Linked DNA regions of Homo sapiens. The protein of the gene in region 3 interacts with the protein of the main gene of each other region in a pairwise test. Each region holds a gene or a part of one and is shown on either strand. Other genes may lie near its edges.

Region 1 (6,622 bases), on a different chromosome or scaffold from region 3:
GCACTCCAACCTGGGTGATAGAGACTCTGTCTTAAAAAGAAAAAAAAAAAAAAAGGAACCAGAACTTGGGGACTTGGAAAATTTCTTAACCTATCCATATTGCAAAAATTAAGAAAGCTTACTCTGAAGAGATCACTAAGGGTGTGGCTGAGCAACCATTTGATAACAGATCATGAGTGTGACTCATATACTTAATTAGCCATCTCAGCTGAAGCCAGGAATACCGACGGGATTATACCAGAAAGACCCTGATAGCTGGAAAGAAAGGGGACAGAGAAAATGGGAAAGAATGAAGGTAAGCTGTCAGCCTTCTCAGATTCTATAGGACTAGACCATATCACTATTTGGCTACAAACATGCACTATTTAAGCAAAGGAAAGAAATGACCCCAAAGGCAACTCAGAGATCAGGGTGGCCACTCAGTGTGTGTGTGTATGTTTTGGAGGAGGGGGCACAGGCAGGAGAAGAGCTGAGTTCCTCCTCAGTTTCCGAGGGAAGGTCACCCTGCCAAGCCACAAGGATGACACTGCATCAAAGCAAAGAGGATTTATTCTTGAGGCTTAAGATATAATGGAATTTGCCTCAATAGGTTTTGGACTTGCTTGGGACCCATTAACACTTTGTTTCCTATTTTTCCTTTTTGGAATAGGAATGTCAATCCTACACCTGTCTCACCATTGTGCTTGGGACGCACATAACTTGTCTGGTTTCAGAGGTTCACAGCTGGAGAAAGATAGGAATCATAGCTCAAGTCTCACCCATACCTGATTTAGAAGATATTTAAATGAGACTTTGTACTTTAAAGTGAGAATGAGTTTAGATTCTGGGGGCTGCTGGGGTGGAATGCATATATTTTGCATGTGATAAAATGAATTTGGGGGAAGGGCTAGGGACAGAATGCTATGAACAGCATATGTTCACCCAAAATTCATATATTGAGAGCCTAACCCCCAATAAGGCTGTATTTGGAGACAGGGTCTCTAGGAGATATTAAGATTACATGAAGTCATCAGGATGGAGCCCTAATCCAATAGGATTGGTGCCCTTATAAGAAGAAGGGAAACCAAAGCTAGCTATCTCTCTGCCATATGAGGACACAGTGACAAGGCAGTCATCTGCAAGCCAGGAAGAAAGCCCTCATCAGAAACTGAACAATGCCAGACCATAATCTTGGACTTTCCAGCCTCTAGAACTATAAGAAATAAATCTCCGTTGTTAAGCCACCCAGTCTATGGTATTTGTTAAGGCAGGCTAAGCTAATTATACTTTCTGTACCTTGGTTTTCCCATCTGTGAAATGGGGATACTTATGCCATTATCTTACGCTTGTTGTAAGAACAAGTTAACACATGGAAAGCATAGAGAACAGAATCCAGCATATAATAAGTACTATGTCTTTGTGAGCAATGGTTATAAAGACGAAGTCTTTGTGCTCAAGGTGTTTGGCTGTCTACCTTGCACAAAAGGTGCCATTTGGCCTTAGCTGGGTATCTAGAAACCCTTGAAAACTCTCACTCCCCTTGGCCAATGTTTACAACTCTTTTAGCTTAAGTCTTCATTTCTATTAAGGTTAATTTCTATTGGAAGGGTAACAGTCACTTATTTCTCAAAGCAATGAAAAAAAGATGTAGGTCCCCAGAGGATGACAGTGAGTTGGAAGCAAAGGATGAAGCCCCTGAAGCCTATTTCTTCAAAGCATGAAGTTAAGGAGAAGGCAGAGTGGAGTAAACTTGAGAGAGGCAAGGCTATTTAAAAGGGTAATTGTTAAACTCGGAATTACTACAAAACTTCTTTTTTAAAAAAGAGACTCCCACGGGGCACAGTGGCTCATTCCTGTAATCCCAGCACTTTGGGAGGCTGAGGTGGTTGAATCACCTGAGGTCGGGAGTTCGAGACCAGCCTGACCAACGTGGAGAAGCCCTGTCTCTACTAAAAATACAAAAATTAGCTGGGCGTGGTGGCGCATGCCTGTAATCCCAGCTACTCAGGAGGCTGAGGCAGGAGAATCACTTGAACCCAGGAGGCGGAGGTTGCAGTGAGCCGAGATCACACCGTGCCACTCCAGCCTGGGTGATAAGAGTGAAACTCTATCTCAAAAAAAAAAAAAAAAGAGAGACTCCAAAACTTTCAAGACTGCATTTATTTGTCTCTAGAAGGTAACCCTGGGCCTTTTCATTTTTCATACTTGTGGAAGTCTGAAACAGAGAAAACATTCCATTATAAATAGTTAAAAATAAGAACCGTTTACAAAAGAAATAAAGAAATATGCAAAAAATTAATTTTATTAGTAATCAAAGATGTTTAAATTTAAAGATACTACTTTTTTACCCATTAAGATTCCTTCTTTTAATAGAGCTCATTGCTAAGAATGTGATGGAATTAGCACTCTTATTATACAGCCAGTGGTGTTATAAATTGGCACTATGCATCAGGTTATAGAATGACCTACCTGTGACTCAGCAGTTCTACTTCTGGGAATCTATCCTGCAAAAACAATACAAAATACAGAAAGGGCTAAACACATCGGTTATTTGTCACGTTTAAGAGAACAAAAAACTGAGAACATAGTGGCCAACAGTAAAAAAATTGTCCCACCTAATGGGTCACATAAACATGCCAGTGATAGAAAAATCAAGAACAGGCACACAATGTTATGTACCTGATGATAATTTTTTATTTTAGTTGCAAAGGAAAAGAAATGGGAAGGATTTTAGTGTATTTCCATCAGTGGTTTTACTAACGTGGCAAGATCATTTTGTCTCTGCTCAATTTTCTGAAACTCTCAACTTGAAGAAAAAATAAACCCATGACTGAAAAATAAAGCCGCTCAAGTCATGGTCAGGCATTTTGGATACTGAAACCTATTATGTACATCACTGTGGATGGTAAAGCACCGCAATCAAATGCTTTAACTTAGCCTTAAACATTTATCTATTTTCTAGTCCACCCTCCTTTACATTTCAAAGTTGAGTTTTGTTAGAACGAAAGTGGTTAAAAAGGACTTAACACTATCACCCACATCCCCCCCAACCCCAACACTTCACTGACTTGCAGGTATTGGGCAAGTTACTTCTGTTCCTTAGTTTCCTCACATGTAAAATGGATATAATTGTTTGTATAGCACAGGGTGGTTGTGAAAATTAAATAGGTTAATATGTATACACTGCCAGGAGCAGTCTCTGACACAAAATATGTATGAGTAGCTTTTTTTTTCTAATCTTGATCGAGTCTTTCCACTATACAAGTGATCAACATTTCTTTCTTTTTATAGTTCAGACCTAGCTTTGGAAGCTTTATTTTTAAAATAAATTTTAATTTTTTTCATATTTAGAATTTTTTATACTTGAGACAAATTCATATAAATTTACCTGAAGGATTAAAGGATGACAATATTCTGCCTATAGTCTACTGCATTTTAGAACATTTATTTTAGTTTGTTTTTAAGAATTAGCTGGAAAATTTCAGAAACGTAATATTTAAGTATGAGAATAGAAAAACTTGCCAAAGTTTATAAATGTTGTCTTTATTGTCACAGCTCATTAAAAATTGGCTGTTGGTCTCATCTAAGCCAAAGAGTTTAAGGTCCAAGAAGAGGGTAGTCTGGAGAATAGAAACCCAGTTTGCTGCTTAATATCTTTAAGAAGGCAGGCACACTCCAATTGTTGGCAGTGTGGCTGCAGAATTTGACGTATTATCCAATGTACATTCCTCCACCCACTGAGCCAGGCTTGGTGAGGGAGATGGGGTAAACAGAAATCCTTGCTCACTCAGCTTTAGAGTTCAGTCCCTGTTCCTATGATAATCTGAAAAGCAAGGCTCTTTCCAAAATCCCAGAGAACCACAAGCATAGGCACCATCACAGCACCAGCCCCTAAATCCCCAAAGTATAGAGAGCACAGTAAAATCCCAGGGCTATAAATGCAGTCGCCGGAGCAGCTTTTCCTCTGAGCCACTGTGCCTTTAGACCAGGGCAGAAAATCCCAACACCTTACCAGGTGAAATATGCTACTCTGGTGCAGGAAGGAGTGGGGAGGACTGGGACAAACCAGAAGGCACCCACCCCATTAAATGGGAAACAACTTTGGAAAATGCTGGGCTGACTAATCTCATCAGAATATGCCCCATGGGCTATTGGTGAACCCCAGGGCAGATGACTGTGCTTCTCAAGCAAAGCGAGACCCATCACTTACTGTGGTAGAAGTTTTACCATCGTATAGAGCCACTACCTGGGGGAATGTGAGGTGGAAGACAGAAGAAAGAGGCTTCAGGTCTTTCCCAAGGTGCTAATGAATTCATCCCAACTAGCCAAACCGTCTCATTTCAGAGCTTAAAATGCTATAGGAAGAAATGTCCCCAGTGAGTAATTTCACAGATTACCGCAACTTGGAACAGGGGTGGTAGGAGTCTACCATCCACACAGGATTCTTTCTCTCAGAAACTCTTTCAAGGAACATTCCCATGACATGCCAGAGTTTGGAAATATATACTGGCAGCATACCAAGGCCCCTGTAACAGATACTATGTCTCTCCATATGTCCCTTTCCAAAGGCCCTCAAGCCCCAGCACTCTTGGCATCTCACTCCAAAATTGAGGGTGGTCTTTGTCTAGAGACATGGTCTCTACAGTGTCACTGGCAACTCTGAACAAAATTTAGAGCCATGCATAATATGAAATGCCAGAACCATAACCACGAGTGGCAAATAGAAGGAATATACAATGGCAAGACAGCGAACAGCCTGCCATCTAGCAATGCCAACCCCAATATGGCAAAAACCTACACTTTGAAGCTCTAATTTTAAACAGGCCTCTCCTGGACCTTGAAATTAATTTTTCTCCCTACCAACACCACATGCTGTGGCTTCTCATGGCTCACGGCCCTCTCTGTCTGCACGAATACTTGCCAATTCATTCCCCGAGTGAACTTCTGGGGCTCTGGCCCCAGACGTTAATCTCCATCCCTGTCATCAGCAGATTCTCATGCACTTCATTTGGGACTTTGCCTCCCAGGAATGTTGTTGATCTTGCACAGCCTGCTCTGACCCCATCTCCAAATCCCCCAAAACGCCCATCCCTGCCACTACCAGGATTTCATTCCCTGGGTCCTCATCAAGGGTAGGGAAAAGGGTGCCACTCCTGCAAACTGAAGCTGGAGAGGGCCTGCCTCCCAAATCTTAAGCTCCTCTGGATATGAGCATTTCTGTCCAATGAGTCACATTATCTGTCACTAGGTCTCTAGTCTGGACAGGATCCTGAAACCTTATGGAGTCACCGCTTCAGGAAAGCTGGGCTGAATCTTTACGAGGATCCTTTTGTCAAATAAAGGTCAGCCTGAGCATCACTTCCTTGGACCCTTTTTATCTTGAGCCCACCCTGGTTCCTGATTGTAAAATGCAAGCTTTTTATACAGTTAATAAAGGTGATATTGAATAATCGCTCAACTCACATATAATTAAAGATCTCAGAGATAAATGTTAACAAAGAGAAAACTAGCCAGAAAGACGGCTGCACAGTAGGTACTTCAAAGAAAATGCGAGTTCTTCTCCCTCCTAAACAATTCAGTACTAATGTCATCAGTTGGGTCACAGTTAGGTAGTGAGAAGCCACAGTGACCCAAGTGAAGTGGTATCAGAGCCCAAGCAGGGTGAGATGGCACCCACATACAGAGGCAGCCCAGCGCAGGATATCAGAGATCCAGCAGATGAGGGGCATATTCACATGGGGGGTGTGGTCCAGTGCAAACATGGTACAGCCCAATCAGGATGAGAACGGCAGCCCCATGAAAGGAGTGGAGGCCTGGCCTGGGGACTCAGAGCCCAAGCTGGGTAAGAAGTCCATGGAAAGGGGCAGTTCAGCATGGAGTAGAGAAACCTGAGCTGAGTAGGCCAGGCACTTGTGTGTGCAGGTGATTTAGCGAGAGCAGGGAGAGGAGGAATCCACATATGAGGGGACCGGCGTGGAACGTCAGAGCCAAGAAGGAGGTTTTTGCGGAGGTACAGCTTGCCATGAGTGTTAAAGTTCAAGTGGGTGAGGAGAACAGCCATGTGGTGAGGGGATGGCAACAGAGATGGGAGATGGGTTATACACAGGGGCATCCTCAGATAAGTGGCTGATTCCAGGGCTGGGATAGAAAAGTACAAGATGAGCTTGGAACACCTTCTGCCAAAAAGGAAATGATCAAATAATCGTGATGACATATCAAACAGAAAGGCTGCCAGCTTAAGGAGCTTTCGCTGGCCACAGTGGGGACAATTGGAGCAATAAAATAATAAAAAATGATAGTATATAATAATCCACTGAATTAAACAGAAAACCATGAGCTCATACTAATATAAAAATGTCTGTATAAAAACAACCAAAATGTTCTAAAATATTTACGTGAACAGTTAAACTGTGGTACATCCACACCACAGATGACTACTCAGCAAAAAGCAGAGGAACAGACCATTTATACAATGTGGATGATCTCAAGGGCATCATCTGAGTGGAAAAAGACCATCTGTAAAAGTCACATAATGTATGGTCCCATTTTTATAGCATTCTCAAGATAAATTATAGAGGTGGAGAACAGATTAGTGATGTCCAGGAGTTTGGAAGAATGGAGGGTTGGGAGCAGAGTGTAGGTG
Region 2 (6,288 bases), on a different chromosome or scaffold from region 3:
TGTCCACATCTCTATTTATATTTCTATGTTGCTATCTATATAGAAAGAGAGAGAAAGCAAATATTAGCAATCGGTGAATCTATGTAAAGGGTAAATGGGTGCTAGTTTTACTGTTCCTTCCATTTTTCTGTAAGTTGAAGTTTTTAAAAATAAAAAGGTGAGAAATTAAAATGTTTTAAAAAACAAATATCAAAGCTTTTTTTTTTTTTTTTTTTTTGAGACAGGGGTTTCACTCTGTCACCCAGGCTGGAGTGCAGTGGCACTATCTCGGCTAACTGCAACCTCCACCTACTGGGCTCTACCTCAGCCTCCCGAGTAGCTGGGACCACAGGTGCACACCACAACACCCAGATAATTTTCTGTATTTTTGGTACAGACAGGGTTTCGCCATGTTGGCCAGGCTGGTCTTGAACTCCTGATCTCAAGCGATCTGCCCGCCCTGGCCTCCCAAAGTGCTGGGATTACAGGCATGAGCCACTGTACCCAGCCTCAAAGCATCTTTATACAAGTGTAACAGGGTAGCCAGAAGGCAAGGCAAAAGGATCATGTTATCCTAGGAGTTTGAGACCAGCCTGGGCAACATGGCGAAACCCTATCTCTACTAAAAATATAAAATGGCCGGGCGCGGTGGCTGATGCCTGTAATCCCAGCACTTTGGGAGGCTGAGGTGGGCGGATCACGAGGTCAGGAGTTCGAGACCAGCCTGACCAACATGGTGAAACCCCGTCTCTACTAAAAATACAAAATTTAGCTGGGTGTGGTGGTGCGCACCTGTAGTCCCTGTTACTTGGGAGGCTGAGGCAGGAGAATCGCTTGAACCCTGGAGGTGGAGGTTGCAGTAAGCTGAGATCGCGCCAGCCTGGGCAACAGAGTGAGACTCCGTCTCAAAGAAAAAAAAATACAAAATTAGCCGTGCGGTGGTGGACATCTGTAGTCCCAGCTACTTGGGAGGTTGAGGTTGAAGGACTGCTTGAGCCCAGGAGTTCAAGATTGCAGAGAGCTAGGACTGTGCCCCTGTACTCCACCCTGGACTAGAGGGAGACCTTGTCTCTTAAAAGAAAAAAATTATTCTTTGGAATTTTTATGGGGGGACATTGGAAAAATAATGAGAACAGTTCCTGTCAATAAAAAGAAGTAAATAAAATTAGGATGTGGCCAGGCAGCCCGGGCCTGCTGACTACGCGCTCCCCTATGTTTGCTGAATGGGCCTGTGGGCCCAGGGAGGCGAGACTTTATTACTTTTGAGATAATTTTTTTTTTCTTTTTTCGAGACAGAGTCTCACTCTGTCGCTCAAGCTGTAGTGCAGTGGCATGATCTCGGTTCACTGCAGCCTCCACCTCCTGGTTTCCAGCAATTCTCCTGCCTCGGCCTCCCGGGTAGCTGGGATTAGAGGCACGTGTCACCATGCCCAGCTAATTTTTGTATTTTTAGTAGAGACAGGGTTTCACCATGTTGGCCAGGCTGGTCTCGAACTCGTGACCTCAGGCGATCCACCTGCCTTGGCCTCCCACAGTGCTAGGATTACAGGCATACGCCACCTCGCCTGGCCTTTATTATTATTATTATTTTTTTAAAATAGAGACAGGGTCTTACTATGTTGCCCAAGCTGGCCTGCAACTCCTGGGCTCAAGTGATCCTCCCACTGTGCCCTCCCACAGTGTTGGGATTACATGCATGAGCTACTGCACTGAGCCAGGTTTTGTTTCTTTGTTTTTTTGTTTGATTTTTAAAAAATTAATTATTATTATTTTTTTAGACAGGGTCTTACTCTGTTGCCTAGGCTGAAGTACAGTGGCATGAACATGGCTCACTGTAGCCTCAACCTCCTGGCCTCAAGTGATCTTCCTGCCTCAGCCTTCCAAGTAGCTGGGTCCACAAGTATGCACTACCATGCCCAGCTAATGTTTAAATTATATGTATAGACATGGTCTCACCACGTTGCCTAGGCTGGTCTTGAACTCCTGGGTTTAAGTGATTCTCCCACCTTAGCCTCCCAAAGTGCTGGGATTACAGGTGTGAGCCACCATGCCCCGCCTTTGTTTTTAATTATGGATTTGTTGCCAACATTTAAAAACTAGAAAGGCCAGGTGCACTGGCTTACACCTGTAATCCCTGCACTTTGGGAAGCCGAGGTGGGCGGATCACTTGAGATCAGGAGTTTAAGACCAGCCTGGCCAACATGGCAAAACCCCATCTCTTCTAAAAATACAAAAACTAGGCCGGGCGTGGTAGCTCACTCCTGTAATCCCAGCACTTTGGGAGGCCGAGGTGGGTGGATCACTTGAGGTCAGGAGTTCAAGACCAGCTTGGGCAACATAGCAAGACCCTGTCTCCCCCAAAAATTAAGAAGCAAAAAATCCCCACACAAAACAAAAGAAACAAAACTATGAAGCCTGTAAACCCAGTCCAGCCTGTGTGCCACCTGATTTGGCTGTACCCCAGCACTGGGGCTCAGCAGTGAAGGTGATGCTGGTCCAGCCATGGCACTCCCTGCCTTGAAGGGTTGCTCCTGCTGCTTGGCAAATTGTGACAGCCCTTGGGGAGTCTGGCCTGGGGACATGGGGTCTTCGATCCCAGCTCAAGAAACCCAAAGCCCCCTGGACTGGGGCATATAGGGGGAGTTTATCTCCAAGAGGTTTGGCTACCCTGTGGATCCTGAGTTGTAGGAGGGGACAGGAATGGTCTGGGCAGGTCCCTGGCCCATGAAGGAAGAAAGAGCCCTCTTGGGCCGGGCGCGGTGGCTCACGCCTGTAATCCCAGCACTTTGGGAGGCCAAGGCGGGCGGATCACCTGAGGTCGGGAGTTCCAGACCAGCCTGACCAACATGGAGAAACCCCGTCTCTACTAAAAACACAAAATTAGACATGCGTGGTGGCACATGCCTGTAATCCCAGCTACTAGGGAGGCTGAGGCAGCAGAATCGCTTGAACCCGAGAGGTGGAGGTTGCGGTGAGCTGAGATTGTGCCATTGCACTCCAGCCTGGGCAACAAGAGCGAAACTCTGTCTCAAAAAAAAAAAAAAAAAAAAAAGAGCGAGCCCTCTTGGCCTGAGTCCCTGGCAGCAATGGAGCCTCATCCAGCGTGTCACTGGCACCCTGGGCAGGTGAGACTCCCCTGCCACAGGGTGGCAGGAGCAGGTGGACGTGTCCTTGGGAGGCCAGCCAGGGGCACGGCCAGTATCCAGGGACTCAAGCAGCTGCCATGTGCTGCTTTGTCTTGGGAACCCAATGCGGTGCCCACGCAGCCCCCCGGGCTGCACCCTCGACCCTGTGGCGCAGCCTCACCCGGTTGCCCTGCGCGGTGCCATCCTGTGTGCGGTAGGAGACCTGGGACTTCCCGCCGTCCAGGACACGCCGGATGACAGGGATGCGGGCCACCTGGTCCCCGCGGCTGACCGAGAACTCAGGCTGCTCAAAGGACACCACGTCTCTGGCTGCAAGGAGCCCGGGCATTTGTCAGAGTGTGCTGGGCCCAGTCCCTTCCCACCTCCTGCTCTCCTGTGACCCTGCCCAGCCCAGCCCAGAATCCAGGAGTCCGCTTGGTTCCCTCTATGCATTGCCCTCTGGGAAGGGCACAGGAGCGAAACGGAAAATCCTTCCAGAAAAAGATGAGGGGCCGGGCGCAGTGGCTTGTGCCTGTAATCCCAGCACTTTGGGAGGCTGAGGCAGGTGGATCACCTGAGGTCAGGAGTTCGAGACCAGCCTGGCCAACATGGCGAAACCCCATCTCTACTAAAGATAGAAAAATTAGCTGGGCGTGGTGGCGAGTGCCTGTAATCCCAGCTACTCGGGAGGCTGAGGCAGGAGAATCACTTCAACCTGGGAGGCAGCGGTTGCAGTGAGCCAAGATGGTGCCATTGCACTCCAGCCTGGGTGGCAGAGCAAGACTCTGTCCCAAGAAAAAAAAAAGTGGTTCTGGAACAAAGTGTCCAGCAGACATCCTGGAAGGGCCAGGCAGAGGAGGGAGGCCAGTCACGGGCAGGACCAGAGATGGAGCCTTCAGCCCCAGGGCTGGAGGAGAGCAGGAACAGGCCTGAGGCCTGTGGCTTCCGGCACAGGTGGGAGGAGGGGTCAGATGTCCACGGTGTGATGCCTTGGCCAACCCTTTTTCTAGATAGAGAGGAGCAAGGGGCTGGCCCTTATGAGGATGCAACAGAAGCTTCCATTTACTGAGCGCTCACCACCAGGCAGGCACTGTGGCGAGGTGAACAGCCACGCATTCCGTAAAAGAGCCCTTACCCATTTTACAGATGGAGAAACCAAGGCTTGCAGAGGTTAAGTGACTAGCCCAGGCCACGTGGCCAGGTCGCAATTCCACTTAAGCAGGAGGAACCAGTGCCCCCGAGCCCCCGTCTGCCTTCCCCACTCTCCCCACCCAGACCCACCTTGCTCCTTGATGATGGTGATGTTTACCAGGCGGCGGCCGAGGGTGGCAGTGCCTGCGGGCACGTCGATGGCCTCCACCAGCAGCTGCTTCTCGTCGTCATCCTCAGGCCGGATAAAGAGGGGCACCCGTACGTCCACCAGCTCCACGCCCTCCTGGAACTCCACCATGCCCCGGGCGTCTGGGTGGGGGTTCGGAGGTGGTCAGAGGTGGGTCACAGGGCCACACAGGCGGGAGGTGCGAGGCAGTGGCACAGCGGACCCGCCCTCCTACCCTGGTCTGCAGTGAGGGTGTAGTAGCCGGGGGCCACCTTGAGGTCGTGGAAGGCCCTCTGTTCCACCTGCTTCTCTGTAAGCTTCAGCAGGGCCGGCTTGGCCGAGCGGGGCGCCATCAGCACTGTGTCCACAATGGTGTGGTCTTGCCTGGGTCGAGGGTGGAAGGTTCAGGCAGCGGAGGGGTCAGGCTGGCACCTGCTGCCCTGTCCCTCCTGCCTGTCTTCTCCCCTTCAGGGGCCAGGATGTAAGACAGCAAGAAGTGCAGGGTCTTCAGAGGCAGGCAGTGCTCCAGGCCTATGCCAGCCCCATACCCTTTACCCTGCAGCCTCAGCCCAGCCATGGCGCCTCCCTGTCCTCAGCGTCCTCCTCTGTGAAATGGGCTTCTCTGCCCACCTCATCAAGGGCTGGACAGCAAAGATGCTAAGGGTGTGTGTGCTCAGGCCAGGCTGCCGCGGCCCTAGCCCTGGTTCTAGTTCTCGATAGCTGGGTAACCTTGGGCAAGTCACTTAACCCTTTTGAGCCTCAGCTTCCTCATCTGCAAAATGGGAACAGCAGTGATCTCTACCTCACAGGCTTGACGAGAGGGTTGGATAAGATGACCACACACGGAAAGCCCTTAGGACAATGCTTGGCCCGTAGCAGGATAAGAAATGCTGGTCAGCCATTCTTTTTTTTTTTTTTCAAGACGGATTCTCACTCAGTCGCCCAGGCTGGAGTGCAGTGGCGCAATCTCGGCTCACTGCAACCTCTGCCTCCCAGGTTCAAGGGATTCTCCTGCCTCAGCCTCCCAAGTAGCTGGGATTACAGGTGCCCACCAACACACCTGGCTAATTTTTGTATTTTTAGTAGAGGTGGGGTTTCACCATGTTGGCCTGGCTAGTCTTAAACTCCTGACCTGAGGTGATCCACCCGCCTCAGCCTCCCAAAGTGCTGGGATTACAGGTGTGAGCCACCACGCACAGCCAACGGTTCTTACTGATGGTCATGTGCTGAGATTCTAGCTCTTCTGTCCCTGCATCAAGACCCCCTCCTCACTCCCTCTCTCTCCCCATGAAGGGCCAGGACTCGATGTAGGACCTGGGAAAAAAGGTGTGTGACCTGCTGGCCCATCCTCTCGGTAACCTGCCTGGTCCCCAGAGGTGCACCCAAGATCAGGGTCTTGGACACTGGAGCGGATGGAGATGGGTACCTGCTATCGCTGGTACCGGGTGGGGGGCTGGACAGTCACCTATATGAGGGCAGGGACTGGGTTGATTTGCTTTTGCCTGCTCTAGTCCAGGGGCCACTTCATAGCAAGCACTTCACATTAGCATTTGTTGAAGAAATGGTCAAAGGAACGAATGAAGGTCCGAACCTGACGGACACATCTGACCCTCCCTTCCTATGGGATGGAGATGGAGTAGGGACGGACGAGGCAGTGGCTGGGCTGGGGACAGGCGGGCAGGAAGTGGGGGCCCTCTCACCCACGAGTCTTCTACTCACTTTTTCCCGGCATTGGGCTGCTGCCTGTGGGGACAAAGAGGGCGCTGTGAGCTAGATAGCCCTGAAGTGGAGGCCTGATCGGCCTGGGGGCTTCGGCTCCTGGAGTCCCGGTAGGAGCGGCTCCCCCACCCAACCCGGGCACCCCGG
Region 3 (4,276 bases):
TCCATTGGGGTGTTATTTTAAAAGATCATGAGCCAAAATATTTCTTGTAGTAAAAAATTTTATTTATGGTGGAATTTCCAAAATTTCTTATATCTTGAAATGATCCACAAAGTACTATTTTGTGCTTACATTTAAAAGATACATTTCTTACAAGAAAAGATCAAAATATATACATTAGGCAGTATTATATTTTTATTTAATACAATATAACTAAAGGATTAAAGAGAAAAGAAATAGTTAAATATATTTAAAATTCCATTTAACTGATTCTCAGCTGTTTTAATGTTTTAAAGAAAAAAATAAAGCTCTAAACACCAGAGACATTTTGATGAGCAATATTTATAATATATATATATGTATATATAAGTTAAGCATTGCAACAAGCTACCCTCAATCAATGGCCCCCTATCAGAAATAGTATTACTGGAACTATGTATTAATATCTAAGCAAAGAATAATAAAGAAGAAGAAAGTATTATTTGCAATGATGACTTTTTAGTTAAATACACTTTCTTATAAAGTGGCAAGGTAATCTTTACAAATTTACAACTGAAAAGAAATCTTTATGTACATGTTGTCTTGGTTTGGGACTTTTTGAAGCCTTCTTCTTCCTGTGTATTAGGCCCTCCTGGAAGAAGTCATATAGACCAGAAAATTAGTTCATAGCACATGATAGATAAGCCTGGAACTAGAAGCCCCTGGAGTTGCAGGCTGTGAATCGGTGCTGGCAACTGGAGAGAGAGAAGCCAGATCCTGGAGAGGCAACCCAGGTTGCTCTGAGGAGGTGATCCGGTCCACTATGTTGGATAAGCAATCCAAGCTGGATAAGGAGTTTTTATCTGTGGCATATACTAAGGATACAAGGAGAAAAGCATTAAAAAATAATTAGCCCAAGATAGACAGATTTGCTTATGTTGCTCCTTAAATTGTAGGTCAGCTCCTCTGACACCCAGAGGTCAGGTGGTCACAGAAAGCCTAACATAGAAATTTGCAACAAATATCTGGCAATTCCTGAGGGGTAGACGTGGGGAGTGGGGAAGCCCCCTGATAATATTTCAAGCAACATTGTGTGTGCATGTGTGTATGCATGTGTGCGTGCGTGTCTGCTAGGGGGATTTGGAGCAGAAGATGTGTTTATTTTGCTTTACCAAAGCCTCCCTATAAGAACCATCACTTCCATTCTCCCTTCCCCAATACTATCAGCAAGAACAGAATCTTATAGGCTGAATTGTTAGGTTGAACTGGTCTTTAAACTCCTGTGAAGTTATCAATTCTTACCATTTGATACATCAGGACAGTAGATGCTGTCAAAAGTACTGCTCTTTCTGGACCAGACAGGACTGTTACATTCGGGCTATAATACAAGACACACAACAAAGTTTGTTTTCAGGTCTTGGCAAAAGATGTTCTGACCAAAGGTGAGGCTGTGCTTGCCCACCAGCTCTGTAACCGAACACTGTCAATCACCTTCACTGCCTTGATTTAGGAAGGGCTAGCCCTCTCCAAATTCCCAGGGCACTGAGGTCAATCTCTGTGCTTGAAGAAGAGGAGAGCAGCAGCAAAGGGAAGAGGGGGTGGAATTCAGCAGCAATGTGCATTGGGTTAACCATGCAAAATGGATTGGAGTAGAAGAAAGCCACACTAATTCAGGGAAAGAACACTTTCCCAGGGCAAAAACACATTAAAACCTGGCAGCCTTGGAGCAAACGCCCTCTAAAAAGAATGCATCAACATCTTTCAGCCAGGCCTCATTGGAGCAGGAACTGGGGCCGTGTGGGTATTTCTTTCCATTTCCTCATTAAGTTAGAAACGGTGCCTTTAGATATTAGCGTAGGGCATGATCCACAGATGGCATATTTTGAAAATAAATTCAGGAATGGAGAAAACATCTGAGTGATCATTCACAGCCACCCATCTTCCATGTCAACACTCGATTACAGTGTACACCTAGAACCTGCTAGAAAGTTAAACTAAAATCTTGTTCAGCAGCGGTTTGGGGAGTCTTTCTAAATGTGGACCCCTCTCTTCTTTTAAAGCAACTCAGCATCTGCCTCCACCCCACTCTCCCCACCACACCAGGTTAAATGAGGTGTAAGGACTTTAGAAAAGATTAGGGTAGCCTAGCAGGTACCAGATCTATTGCTTACCATGCCATCAGAGCAGTTGGAGGTGGGGCTGGTGGGCTCCGAGCAGCTCTGTCCCGGCAGGCTATAGTAGTTCTCCACCTGCTCTCTCAGCAACTCCTGCAGGCTCTCGATGTAGCGGATGGCATTCCTGAGGATCTCCACCTTGGGCAGCCTCTGGTTGGGGTTGGTCGTGGTACACCTCTTGAGGGTTTCGAAAGCCTGGTTGACCTTCTTCAGGCGCCTCCGCTCGCGCATAGTGGCTGCCTTCCGCCGATCCATGGTGGTGGACTTCCTCTTGCAGGCTTTGCAGGCCCACATGAGGCAGTGACCAGCCTGGTGGTGGCCGGTAGGCGCTCGCACGTGCTCGTCCTCATCTGAGCCCTGCAGCTCTGCTTTGTGCGCTCCGAAGGCAGCCACTCGCGGCACAAACTCGTCCCCAAATTCACCCTCGGGGGACGGTATGCAGGAGCCGTCGTAGAAGTACTCAGAAGGTGAGAACTGGCAGCCATCCATCACGTCCATCCTGCTGAGAGGCAGGCGGTGCACCTGGACGGCAGCGAGAGGGATGGGGAGAAACGGGAGCCTGGCGCCTCCGCCGATGGGCAAATCCCGGGCGGAGCTCCCTAGTCTGTCGCTCCGGTAATTAACAAGGGCAGACGCCTGTTGGCCTGGGTAGACAAGCTGGGGTTGGGGTTCTTTATATATTCTTTCGGGAGGGAGGCCGGCCCCAGTGGCCAGGCACTATTAGCATATCCCACCGCAACCCCCGCGGGGGCTGTCTGGACAAACCTCCGCCTTTCCTCTACAGACAATCTGCTGTGTACTGCCCCTTTTGACGCTAATGGTTTTACTGTATTTCTGCTGGGGCGGCAGTGGGTCCCCAACCTGCTCATTTGCACTCTCTAGATAGGCTAAAACAAGGGATCACTTAAGGAGTGTTTCACACAAAAGTGACCAAGGCAGTCCAACTTTTTGCAATTGGACACACATTTTAAAATAGTGGTAATAAATAGAAATCCCTTTCAGCTGGCACCAAGAGCCGACCTGCCCTCCCAATCCTGGGCGTGAGGAATCACCTGATTTGGGGGTGTTTGTTTCTCTTTTTCATGAACTTCAATTATCTCGAAAACTTTTTCCAGCAATTGGATTGAATAACGGTTACTAAAAACTTGAAGTGGCATTTTCAATCTTGGAGTGAATACAGGGTTTGCCTTTCCAAATCTATTTTGTATAGCTTCAGATGAGTAAAGTTTTGCTCAGATTGTCATTTATTCTAGGCTCTACCTTATTGAGAGTAGGGAGGGAGGTTCCTTTTCCCATGACTGGGCTTGCTCTGAGTTCTCCCTGTATGTCTGCTCATCTAAAAGGAGGTGGGGCACAGGAGGGCCAGGTGACCAGGAACATTCCTCCCGTTCTTGCTTCCTTCATTTTCCCCTTCTGTACGTATTTGTTGAGCACCTTCTCCTTTGTGCCAGGCCTTCCCTAGATCCTGAGCAGGCCAAAGACCTGCACTGAAAGTGTCTCTAAGATTTCCAACAGAAGAAGCCCAGTTTTCGACGGCAAACTCCCTTTCCAGGGGTGAGTCTCCTTTCTCCCTCTCTTTCTGCTCCGCCCTGTCATTTCTACAGACTAAACAGCCAAGCTGGGCTTTGGGGTTGCTAATTTTCTGCTTTCAGGCAAACTAACACCGTTACAGATGCGTCCCAGCTGCCGCCACTGCAATCCTTGACTCGTGTAAAATTTCCAACTCCTCAAACCAGGAGTAACTTCACACACTTCAGTGACAAAAGCCTTCCAGAAAAGCAATCACAGCAGGGTCTTTAGAACTTCGATGGATAGAAGGCAAGAGGGGAGGGTTGTCATTTAAGTGGGAATGAATCTATTAATCAGCTTTTACCAATCCTCCTCCAACCTTAATCCACTTTCAGGTTATTTGGGTTGGGGAGGTGCTGTTTATATTTAGGAAAAGCAATTACTTAAGGTCTACACAATTAGTCTTGGGGTTTTGGACTAGGTCTTGTGGCCCCGTTGAAAGAAGCAGGAGTGTTCTCAACTCAATCTAGGGTAACCCAGTTCAATAAATATAGTGGCTCCGAAGTTATTGCGAGGAGGAGGGAGTTTTCCTTCCTATTATTATTATTATTTCTTTC
Region 4 (5,358 bases), about 28 Mb from region 3:
GATGGTCAGTCTGCTGCCTGAAGCCCCAACCCCCACAGCGGGGAGGTCAGGGGCCCTGGTCAGGCTGGGGACTTCAGGCCCCCTTTGCCCTGGCCCCCAGGAACCTCATCCTCGCTAGAGGCATTGGGGTGGGGACCAGGCTGCGAGGAGTCATCCTCAAACATTTCAGGGTTCTCCAGCATCTCTCGGATTAAGGGAGGCATCGGGCCTGGAATCTCCATCTTCAGAGTAATGGCCCTTTCAGCTCCTACAATGGAGAGAGAAAGAGAGAGGCTCAGGAGGACAGAGGCACATGGCCCTTAAGGCCATCTCCCTAACCTTTCTCAACTGCCCCTGACTCCCCTAGGGGGCGCCCAGCACAGGCCCACCACCTCTCCGTCCCCAGCTCATCCTCTTCTCACTAGGCTTCCTGGGTGCCACTCCTCTGCCTGGAACCTCTACCTGGCCTTCTCTACCAGGCTTGCTGCCCATTCATCCCATTCTTTCAGGCTGTCTCTTCAGCGAGCGCAATGCACACAACTTCCAACCCCACTCCCCAAGTACCCCACTCTCGAATGTCCAGAGCTTGTCACTTGTTCCTAGTCCTGTTCTCTTAATAACATTTATTACCACAGCTAATATTTATCAAACACTATGTTCCAGACATCCTTCTAAGCCTGGACTGTCCAATAGAACTTTGCAATGATAGGAATACAGTAGTCATTGGCCACATGTGGCAATCTGAAATGTGACTACTGCAACTGCAGAATGGAATTTTTAATTCAGCACAATTCTAAGTACACTGTATATGTTACAGGTTTTTTTTGTTGTGTTGTTGTTGTTGTTGTTGTTTTAGAGGCAGGGTCTTGCTGGGTTACCCAGGCTGGACTGCAGTGGCTATTCACAGGTACAATCATAGCTCACTGCAGCTTCCAACTTCTGGCCTCAACTGATCTTTCTGCCTCAGCCTCCTGAGTAGCTGGAACTACAGATGTGCACCATGGTGCCTGGCTTTACATTGTATATTAACTAATTTAGTCCTCAAGACAGCGTTACAAGGTACGTGAAGAATAGCCCAGTTTACAAACAAGATTAAAAAAGTAAAGCAATTTGCCCAAGACTTTGTCTCTAAATATATATATACACACACACACACACACACACACACACACACACACACACACATACTTGGAATTGTGCTGAATTAAAAATTCAATTCTGCAGTTGCAGTAGTCACATTTCAGATGCTTAATAGCCACATGTGGCTAATGACTATTGTATTCCCATCATTGCAGAAAGTTCTACTGGACAGTACTGGTTTAGAAGCAATTTGCCCAAAGTCTCCCACTACTATGTGGCAGAGCTAGGATTCCAGTGTAGATTGCCTGGTTCTCAACTACTCTGTTCTTGTCTCTGTGTGTCCTCCTGTCCGACCTGGGAGACCAACAGCCCTGGGAAGACAGAGAGGGGACACCCACTCATGACTCACCCTTAGTGCTGATGCCCCGGAGGTCGGTGATTTTCATTAGCATCCTTGGGAACATGTAGGGCTGGCTGGGCCGCCGGCGCCGGGCGTACAGCCTCAGGGCTTCCAGCAGTGGCTCCTGCAGCTTGTCCACTTTTTCGGGCTCCTCCAGGTCCATGCGGTCTATGGGGACAAGTATACTGGAGTGAGAGGGGAAGGAAGAGATGGGGAAGACACAGTGACAGATGGCTGATCACCAACCGGCGTTTTGGGAAGCCTGTACAGGGTTTCAGAACTCTCTGGATGGGGCCAGGTGCAAGAATTACCAGCAGAAGAGACCACTGGGTCCTCCACGCCCCCTCCCAGACAGATTCCGCATGGAGTGGTGGGAAAGGAGACTGAGCACTGAGCAGACGCCAGGGGGCGCCCCCGCACCTCCGCAGATGAGGCAGATGGCGCTGAGCAGCCCTGTCTCGGTGTCATCCATCTCCAGGGGCAGGAGCTGCCCAGCAAAGGCAAAGACAAGGTCTGTGAGGGGCCCGAAGCCGGCATTGTGCATCTGGGTCCGGTTCAGGGTCAGCCCGTCGGAGAAGGTCATGGTGTCCTGCTCTGGGGTGTACCTTGTGCAGATACGCAGCATCTGGAGGTGGGGGGTGGAGGAGGGTTAGTGCTGTTTCTGGGGGATGGGGAAAAGAGGGAATGAGTGGAAAGTGAGGAGGTTAGGTCCCCAGTGAGTGCAACCTGAAGCAGGCATGGAGAAGGCAGAGGTGGAGGATCTGAGGCTTGGCAGGGGTAGTCCCGGGAAGTCAGGAGGAGACAGGGCATCCAAAAGTCTAGGATCAGGTCATAGGGGCAGAGGCTAAGACGAAAAGAGAGCTGAGGAGTCCCACATGTGTGGCAGGGGGTGCAGGGTAAGGAAATCTTTGCATGGATCAAGGAATTGTTGAGGGTCCCATATGTGGGTCGGGCTGTGGCAGGACCCACAGGGCCTAACTTACCAGGATATCTAGGCAGGCAGCTTTGAGCAGAGTGATCTGGTCAGCAATGCTGAGCCCTGTAAAGCCAGGCAACCGCTTGGCAAACTCCACGATCTTGATGATGCACTTGGTAGCCAGCTCACTGAACTTGTCCCACAGCCCCAGATCCAGCTGCACGCGGTGGTCTGCACTGGAGTTCTGCAGAGGGGAGGGGTAGAAGGTTGGAAGGCAAGCTAAGGCCCACCTCTGGGGGCTGTCTTCTCTCTACCAATATCCCAAGCTCTCTCCTCTGCATTCTGATGCCCTCCTTGTCCTCAGCACCAGTCGATGATAGCCTCCAACACAACCCAGCCCCATTCCCCAAAGTGAAGAGTGCCCTGCCCTCACTGGGCTCTGCCCATTCCTCACCGTGGTATACTTGCCCAGCTGGCAGAGCGAGGGGAAAGTCTCCTGATGGGCTTTGCTGACCTTGGTGATGAGCTCTTCTAACTGAGGGCTCAGCTCATAGCTGTCAGGTGACCCTTCTTCCTTCACCTCTTTCTTCTTCTTGTTCCGGTCATTTCGCACAGCTTGTGGGTGGAGGCGCAAGGAGAGGGTCAGGACCCTCAGAGCCTCCCTTTGGGTGTCCTCTCTCACCCTAATTTAATATGCTCAGTCCTTATCATGAATATCTATTCTCTGGCACTGTAATTACTGCCTCAGTTTCCCTATCACCTATAATAGCTCCTATTCCCAGGCTGGTTCTCCCCAGCCCCACCCAGGGCCTGCAGCCCCTGCTCCTTCCCCAGGCCATTCGGCTCCATCCTGTCCTTCCTGTCACCCTGCAGGAGCTGGGGGAGGGGGGGCAGGATATGCAGGCGGCAGGATATCCACTTATAGCCTTGGCAGCACAATGGGGGCGAGGGGGGGGTGGAGAGGAGGAGCCACCCCATATCCATCTCTGGCTCAGTCCAGGGGAGGGAAAGGGACTGGCAAGCCCACTGGCTTCATTTCCCCCATGAAACAGGGGGAATGTGAGACCCTACTTATTCACCCATTCAGAGGAAGAGTCAAGCTCCCTGAGAGGGAGAATGGGAAATGGTGGGGCCTCCTGGTTGAATGGAGCTAATCAAATAAGACTGGCCTGGGAGAAGGCAGCACCCCAGGGCAGGCCAAGTCTCAGAGGTCAGGGAAGTGGGAGTGGCCAGAGGAAAGAGGGCCACAGCCATAGGGTAGGACCGAAGTGCTCCTGCCCAAGCCAAGGATGGCAGCCTACCTTCCTTGGACATGCCCACTTCGAAGCACTTCTGTAGCCGGCAGTACTGGCAGCGATTCCTGGTCACCTTGTTGATGATACAGTTTTTGTCGCGGTGACACGTGTACACCATGTTCTTCTGGATGCTTCGGCGAAAGAAGCCCTGGAGTTGAGGGAAAGAGAGAGGGCCTCTGAAGCACAATGCTGGGAGTACCAGCCTCTCACTGGCCTTGCAGGTTGCCCCAAGCCTGACCTAATCTATTAACCACCTATGTGCAAAGCAGTGCTGCTCAGACACAGCATCTGTGTGCCTGGTCTCTCATCTTACTAGGGTAACTGGATCCCCCGTCTGCCCACTCCCACCACGTACACACCTTGCAGCCTTCACAAGAGCTGACCCCATAGTGGTAGCCAGAGGACTTGTCATTGCACACGAAGCATGGCTTGTAGACCCGAGGAGGCGGAGGGGGCGAGGGCGAGCTGGGCACCATCTCCTCTGAGCTGGTGCTCTGTGTCTCCACCGCTGGGAGGGAAGCAGTGATGTGAGGGTCAGGGGAGAAGGACCCCACAGACCTCCAGGCTTCCTCATCACACACACCCCATGTGCATTTGTTCCTTGGCCCACTGGTGACAGCCATCACTACCACAGTGCACTAGTTCCAGCAGTAAGCACTGTCAGAATCCTCTTAATGACCACTATTACCACAGCTTGTTGTGACCCTAGTTCACCCTCTACCCTCCACAGTCTAACCAACTTGTTCACAAGAATGCCAGCCCTCATCCTATATGACATGTTTAATCCTCCAAATTCCAGACCAAGGCCATTCCGGAAATTGACTTCTCTGGGCCTGTTTCCCTAACTATCCAGGAGGTGGGTAGAAGAGTTAAAGCCCTGCAGCTCTGAGCTCTCTAGTCACTCTCTGTCTCTTTGGTATATCTTTGTCAGGTAGTCTACTTCCCACTGTCCTCCCTGTGGGGCAATAACTCTGGGGGCAGGTAGGCAATGACAGGCTTCCTGTAGCTGCTACTGGCCAAATGACCTGCTGGGATGCTTAGCAGGTAAACCAGGACCTCATTTCCTTTCCAGTAGTACAGGGGGGATAACTCCTCAGGCTTATCTCTCTCACACTACCCCTGAATAACCATCAGAGACAGTGGAGCAAATGGGGCAAAGGTCTCAGGGGAGTGAGTGAGAGGATGCACCACAGCCTTGGTTCACGCCTGAAGAAACTGAGGCCACGAGAGGGGAAGTGACCAGCTCAGTGCCACACCACCAGCAGATCCAAGTGGCTGTGAGTCAGAGAAGCTGGGGAAGCAGAGGCTGAGGTGTTTGCTCAGTTTCTCAGGTCTGGAAGCCGTTGGAGGTGTAGCAAACTGGAGAAGTCAGGTGACAGTAGGTAAACAGGACTGATGGGGGAGGGAACCTGTTTCTGGACCCTCTCTGAGCTTATGTCTTCACTCTGAAAATACCCAATTGCAGCTCAAAAGGGGTCTCAGCCCCACAGTATGGGGAGGACATGCTCTGCTCTGTTCAAAAGGCTGCTGGGTAAGTGTGTGTGTGTGTGTGTGTGCGCGCGCGCGCGCGCGCGCGTGTGGTTGGTCTTCAGAGGCTCGGAAAATTTGTAAATTATTCAACCTGTAGGACCTGTTGCCCAAACCTGGAGGGCCCAAGTTAATGCAAAAAAATTCCTAAGACCCTCCCT
Region 5 (6,105 bases), on a different chromosome or scaffold from region 3:
TATCAATATGGTGCTCTATGGATTTATACAATTTTATACAGGGAACACTGTGTTGCATAGTTTACACAGTCATTATATTTTTCTGATCTTTCTGAATCCTGAGGCAGATTTAGCGTTGTATGAAGATACAATTATTTTTCACACTGAAACCACAGAGGAATACTGAAGTTTCTAGATGGCATTATTTTTAATTGCACTACTTTAAGGTGGTAGGACACACCCTAGATACAAGTTAAATAAAATAAGTATTTGAGTTCTTTGTACTTTGAACTCTTCACAGGAAAAGTGTTCTACAAATTCAAGTTGTTACTTGGGGGGCAAGGAAAACATATAATTCTCAAGCAAAAAAAAATCTTAAATCCTAGTTTTTAAGATAGCTCCTAATATCCAAGACAGGATATAGGACATGAGATACTGGCATTTGACTATTCAAATTTATATAGGATTACAGTACTTTGGCAAGTACAAAGAAATACTTTTAAAAATACAGGTATATAAATTAATGAAACTGGTATTTAAAAGATTTAATACAGGAAAAAAGTATTGTATAGTGGTACCAATTCTCAATACAAATTATTAAGCATAGTTTATATAATTCCAAAAGTTATTAACATTATTGCTCGATACCACAGTTGTATGGAACAAGTTCTTGACACACATTAAAACTTGTATAATTTCTGGTTTATAAAAACAAAAATTTACACATAGGTCATTCACAAATCTAAAAGTTTAAAAATGCATAGAGATATGCACAACAAAAAGGAGAAAAAATTATATGTATTTGTGTATATGTATATTTAAAAGAAACAAGCTAATCTGATTTAACATGTATGTCACACTCTCAATCAAAACAAGTATACATAACTGTACTGAAAGTGAACTAGTGGATAAAAATAGTACTAAATGCATCCTCCATTTCTTATTAACAATCTTTTCTAAATATCAACGGGATATTAAATACCAGCTTACTTTTAGTTCTAGAACTTTTGCTTTCTTTCAAAAACTTTTCAGAAACATATATCCATTCTATAATTGTGATAGATTGGAAGAAATATTTTCCTTAGAAATTTTGTAAAGGAATACTTCCACTCTTTTGTATGTAAGATTTGATAAACGATAAAAACCCAAGTAAGGCCATTATTATCATCTTGATCAAAAATATACACAGATCGTGATGCTACTATATTGTGTGATCCTGAGTTCTAGTAACCACTAGATACATGCATACCATTCACTGATTTGTCTATTCTAATAAAAATTTAATCCTGTCTTACTACCTTTGAAGACAGAAATACTTTTAAAACTTTTTGATAGGTCTTCATAACATTACAGATTATCTGCCATAAACAGAGCATTAGGAATTGTATGAGAAAGGGTATGTTAGGTCCCAAAAGACTATTAAAGAAAACTTACTATTTTAAAATAATGACAATATCAAATTTGAAAAGAAAGAAAAAATGACAGAAAAAGTGTGCTTGCTGGAATAGGTAAGTTGAGCCTTACAAAGGTGTTTTTCTCTGTTAAGGAATTTATAAATAAAGGACTGTGTGTACCTTGGTGACAAAATAAAAAAGGCTGGCCACTTTTTATGCTAAGTTCAAATGTATTTTTTTGATAATACAAAAAAGTAATCCTTGAAAATCAGAATACATAACAGAAAAGAGCACAATAACTTAAGTATTAAACATCTGTATGAAATAACTGTTGCAAAGATTGACAAAAATGCACACTTAGAACATGCGGTTATTTAAAAAAAAAACAAAAACAAAAACAAAAAAAACACCACACGATTCTGTAGAACCAATGTTATGTCACCACCAGGAGAGCACCAAGCAAGGCACCATTGGAAAGACAACATACTTGGAAAGTCTCTATAAATAAAGTAAATGCTAATCTGGTCGAAAAATCGGTGTCTTTGGTAAAAATTCTATGAGGATGACCTGTAAAAGGAGAAGAAAAAGGTTTTAAAAGATTTAAACAAAATTTTTTCTTAAAACTTCAATTATATGCTTTCACAATTTTTTTGAAAATCCATTCACATTTTAAAACGCAACTTTGCATTACTAAAACAGATCTTTATCTGATAATGCAGAGTTCCATCACTGAGAATTTTTCTTTTTATTTCTGGACCTTTACCAAATACACGAAATACCTTGGCTCTATGAAAAGGAAGACAAATAAGCAAGTAAAATCACCAAAGTCTGAGAAGGGTGATATAGATAGTGCCCCTGATACACTGGAGGAGCAAACATGCATACATGCACGCTCCCCTGCACTCATGAGAAAAGAGGCTAGTATTTACTTAGAACTAACTGTATACCAGGTGTTCCATACTACATTGGGTCTCTTTAAACCCAACAACTTTTCTATGAGGCAAGTATTATAATCCTTATTTCACAGATGAGGAAACTGATGATCCAGAGAAGTTGTATCACAATTGAATGTGGAGTCACTGTTTGAATAAAAGACTGTCTTAACTCCAAAGCCTTGCCCTTTATACCACCCTACGTGACTGCAGCTCACCCAACATTTTTCTTTAGACTTTCTCCTTTTTAATCAACCCAACTACATGAGTCTTCTCTAAGTTCTAGAGTTGCTCTCATTTTACTCTACCAGAATATGTAATCTTTAGATAAAAGGTCCTTTATCTCTTAATTTTTTAAAAAGTCCATTTCTTCTTAGGTTAGCAAAATTAAAGGCTAAAATTTGTTCCAAAAGGCCTTTTAATAGGAAACTAAAGGAAAACCAACAAAAACAAAATATGGTAACACAGAATTACACAAAGTGACCAGAGCTAATTTTTCCAAATTTGAATTTTCTTAAATTACAGTCAACTCTTTCTTTTGCTCCAAATTTGTATTAAATAGATGGTGATTTAAAAATTATTTGATTTTAAAAGTTTCTAAGTCTAGTGAACTCATCATTCTTTTTCAGAAACTGTGTCTTGCTTGATATGACCTCCAGATTTCAATACTTCTACAAATTAGCTGTCTGGGCCAGGAATCTTCATTTTCACTCTTCAGTTCTCCTGGCTTTTGATCTGCCTCAATAAAGAAGATACACTTCTATACCTGGCTCAAAAATATTCCTGTCCTACTCTAGGTATCCTGCACTAAGGCTTAGCTGTCACATTTGCCACTCTCCTGACCTGTGATTTGCCTACAAAATATTCACTAGCTCCCTGTTAAAATACTTTCTCCCAACTAGCTTCTTCATTTGAGCTAGATTTTCCTGTTTCTCAGGTTTCTTATCTATAAAATAAAAGCATTGAACTAGATAACAAGATTCTTTGCAGCTTTAAAATTTGACAATTAAATGTTTAAACTACTTAGGAGTCAACATTAAATAAATAATTTTGTATTTCAAGTATGTCCTCAATCAGTCTTTATAATTTTAGTCCCCAGGTATGGGCATCCCCACACTTTATAATATACACTTTTAATACATAACATAAAATAAAGGCTATCTTTGCCTACATTTGAACTATTAGTTTTTAAATAATATATTCTACAAATTTTTCCTTCAGAAGCCACACATAGAGACTGGCCACTTGTCTCATTTATTCTAAATCATCCATCTCTACCATATCTGAACAAAGAAAAGTTAGTGCCAAGGTGGAATATATATATATATATTTTTTAGTATCTCCAATGTTCAAATTATAATCAAGGATAATTATTTTCTTTTAACAAAATTAAATTCCTGTAAGTTAAAGAAAAGTTGAAGAAAAGAGGGACACATGGTTAAAAAGGCCCAAATTCATTAGATAAAATGAATTTTATTTGCTAGTTTAACTTTTAAAATTCATTTTTATAAATTTTTTAAGCTACATTATTCTCACTTTCAACTATCACAAATATATATATATACTCTAAGAAAATCCAGCAGAACACATTTTTTCTCCCCAGCTTATTATTATTTTTTTTAAAGAGAGGTGGGTATTGCTATGTTACCCAAACTGTCTTTGTACTCCTAGACGCAAGTGATCCTGCTGCCTCAGCCTCCCCAGCTAGACTACTGGCATGCCCACTACACCCAGCTTTTTCCTGGCAATTGAAATATTTATTTTATCTTTACTACTCTTCTGGGTATCTTCTATGATGGAGTGAAAATAATATAATGGCTTTAGCAGAAGTGCTTAATTATCTAAAAATTCAAGGAAACTTATTTGACAAACAAAGCATATAGTTCAGAATGTTTTGGAAGGTTATAAATTATTTTATGAATAAATTATAGTCATATAGTTCTATCTGGAATTCATAGCATTGGGATAACTTTTATGTTTTCCTTTCCAAAGTAAATTTAGAAATGCATGAAAAAATTAATACCTCAGTTTTAAGCTTAGTGTTTGTGTTATAAATGTAGTAAATATTTTTTTCACTAAATTCTTTACATCTCCTATCCATCCCTCTCCCCAAAATATATACATAAACCCTCTATCTAAGATGAAAATACAAGAGTAGTCTCCTCACCTCAAAATGAGTTACTCAAATGTGTTATGATTATAAAGAAGTATCAAGTGTCTTTCTCATCATCATACATTAACATGTTTGATGTAGTAAAGATAAAATCTACATTATTTGGTTCATTGAATAAAGCTAGTCTAAGACATTTTAAAAATATTTTTTATGTTCAAGGCTAGAAATAGGATTTGACTGTGGGATAATGAAAGAACAGGAAAATGCTAACAGACAAAAATGATTTTATGATAATTTACAACTAAACACTGTTTTAATCAATATTTTACACATACACACGCACACATCTATGATGGCTATATTGTTTTAAAGAATAGACAAAATTCCTCAGAAATGTTGTAACAGGTACTTCACAAAGGCTCTGAGTTTTATTTTCAACTATTAACTTTTCCTTAGATCTTTTCTTTTAAAGTAATAACCTGGCCATATTTAAAATAAAATATCCAAGCTCAAAAGAGAATTAAAATTCTTAATTTTCTAGAGTATTCTGAAATTTTCAAAAGGAGAAAAACTGTTCAAGTAAATCATGGAGTCAGTAAATTAAATCCCATGCTGAGTAAGTTCTAAAATTCATTGTATATATATGCCAAATTAGATATTTTTTAACAAGTAAACACAAGATGATCAACATCTCATCTCCTGCTTACTTTTAATTTTTACAAAGCAGTATTCTAATAACACTTTAAAAGAGATTCTTTAAAGGGCACTGAGGTACGGGCAGTTAAAATCTATAAAGGGTAAAGGTTTCTTAAGCTCCAATGGCTTGGCTGAAAGGTTTTCTTCCATACTTGGAAACTTGATTAGCATTATATAAAAAAGCCATATCTGACTTGCTGCGTAACCAAAGTTGTGGTTATTCTTTATACAGCATCTAAAATTTCACACTCCATCAACACATGTTCAGGCTATTTTATCTTGGCAATTAATTTATTATTTTTCAGAACACAGTGAAGCCTTGTTTTCAAGTCATTCATAACTTTATAAATCAGTCTTGCACATGAAACCATGCATCTGTGAACCGTAGAAAATCCTTGCACTCAGGAGATTAAGCTCCTGACACCTTTGCTGATTAATAATCATGGAAAGAATAAGATCAGAAGCAAAATAAATGATCATTTAATAGAGAAACTCACAAAACAGCCCTTTAACTTACATATTCCATCATGTTATTCGTTTCACATTTCCTTTTGCTCAGTCTCCAATGCAAGCACAGCTAGACAAGTAGGAAAGTAAAAGAAGAAAAATGAGCTCTATTTTATTGCAGCACACAGACTAACCCATTTGTCCACCTTTCATATTTTTAGTTCAACAAAAGCATCTGTTTCCATACTGTGCAATTCAGACCCCAACAGTACGAAGCTGCTCCCTGTGGTACTCACCTTGTGGTATAACCTATTGTTTTCCCATTCTAATAACTTCTCAATCGATCTTCGTGTCTGGAAGACAAATGAGAAAAAAGTTTACTCTTGACTGGTTTTAGAAAACTTTGTTTTGCAGCTGCTTTTTCTGTGAAAAGGGGAGAGGTATAAGACAGTGACTGAGTATAGTGTGGTGTGCATCACTATCGATGTTCTAAGCACTAAATGGTAACCTGAACACAAAAGAGTACTCTTTCTTAAAAAAGATA

The links.
Region 1: the proteins of MYF5 (region 3) and FIGLA interact in binary tests that used the Homo sapiens proteins (3 or more experiments, as listed by UniProt).
Region 2: the proteins of MYF5 (region 3) and ITGB4 interact in binary tests that used the Homo sapiens proteins (3 or more experiments, as listed by UniProt).
Region 4: the proteins of MYF5 (region 3) and RARG interact in a two-hybrid assay, tested with the Homo sapiens proteins (one large-scale study listed by BioGRID and IntAct).
Region 5: the proteins of MYF5 (region 3) and CHIC2 interact in binary tests that used the Homo sapiens proteins (3 or more experiments, as listed by UniProt).

Annotation. Positions count from the first base shown.
Region 1 is NC_000002.12:70,775,189-70,781,810, forward strand, and holds the end of FIGLA (factor in the germline alpha), read right to left. Parts: intron 2,484-6,622; coding exon 2,449-2,483; intron 2,195-2,448; coding exon 2,179-2,194; 3' UTR 2,122-2,178; downstream 1-2,121. UniProt on the Homo sapiens protein: Germline specific transcription factor implicated in postnatal oocyte-specific gene expression.
Region 2 is NC_000017.11:75,740,859-75,747,146, reverse strand, and holds part of ITGB4 (integrin beta-4 isoform 1 precursor), read right to left. Parts: intron 6,166-6,288; coding exon 6,142-6,165; intron 4,807-6,141; coding exon 4,658-4,806; intron 4,566-4,657; coding exon 4,386-4,565; intron 3,435-4,385; coding exon 3,286-3,434; intron 1-3,285. UniProt on the Homo sapiens protein: Integrin alpha-6/beta-4 is a receptor for laminin. Plays a critical structural role in the hemidesmosome of epithelial cells. Is required for the regulation of keratinocyte polarity and motility.
Region 3 is NC_000012.12:80,715,436-80,719,711, reverse strand, and holds MYF5 (myogenic factor 5), read right to left. Parts: upstream 2,801-4,276; 5' UTR 2,649-2,800; coding exon 2,148-2,648; intron 1,355-2,147; coding exon 1,279-1,354; intron 852-1,278; coding exon 661-851; 3' UTR 41-660; downstream 1-40.
Region 4 is NC_000012.12:53,211,617-53,216,974, forward strand, and holds part of RARG (retinoic acid receptor gamma), read right to left. Parts: intron 4,179-5,358; coding exon 4,030-4,178; intron 3,819-4,029; coding exon 3,677-3,818; intron 2,991-3,676; coding exon 2,830-2,990; intron 2,620-2,829; coding exon 2,443-2,619; intron 2,085-2,442; coding exon 1,880-2,084; intron 1,628-1,879; coding exon 1,469-1,627; intron 248-1,468; coding exon 60-247; 3' UTR 1-59.
Region 5 is NC_000004.12:54,008,206-54,014,310, forward strand, and holds the end of CHIC2 (cysteine-rich hydrophobic domain-containing protein 2), read right to left. Parts: intron 5,915-6,105; coding exon 5,858-5,914; intron 5,692-5,857; coding exon 5,632-5,691; intron 1,941-5,631; coding exon 1,890-1,940; 3' UTR 1,584-1,889; downstream 1-1,583.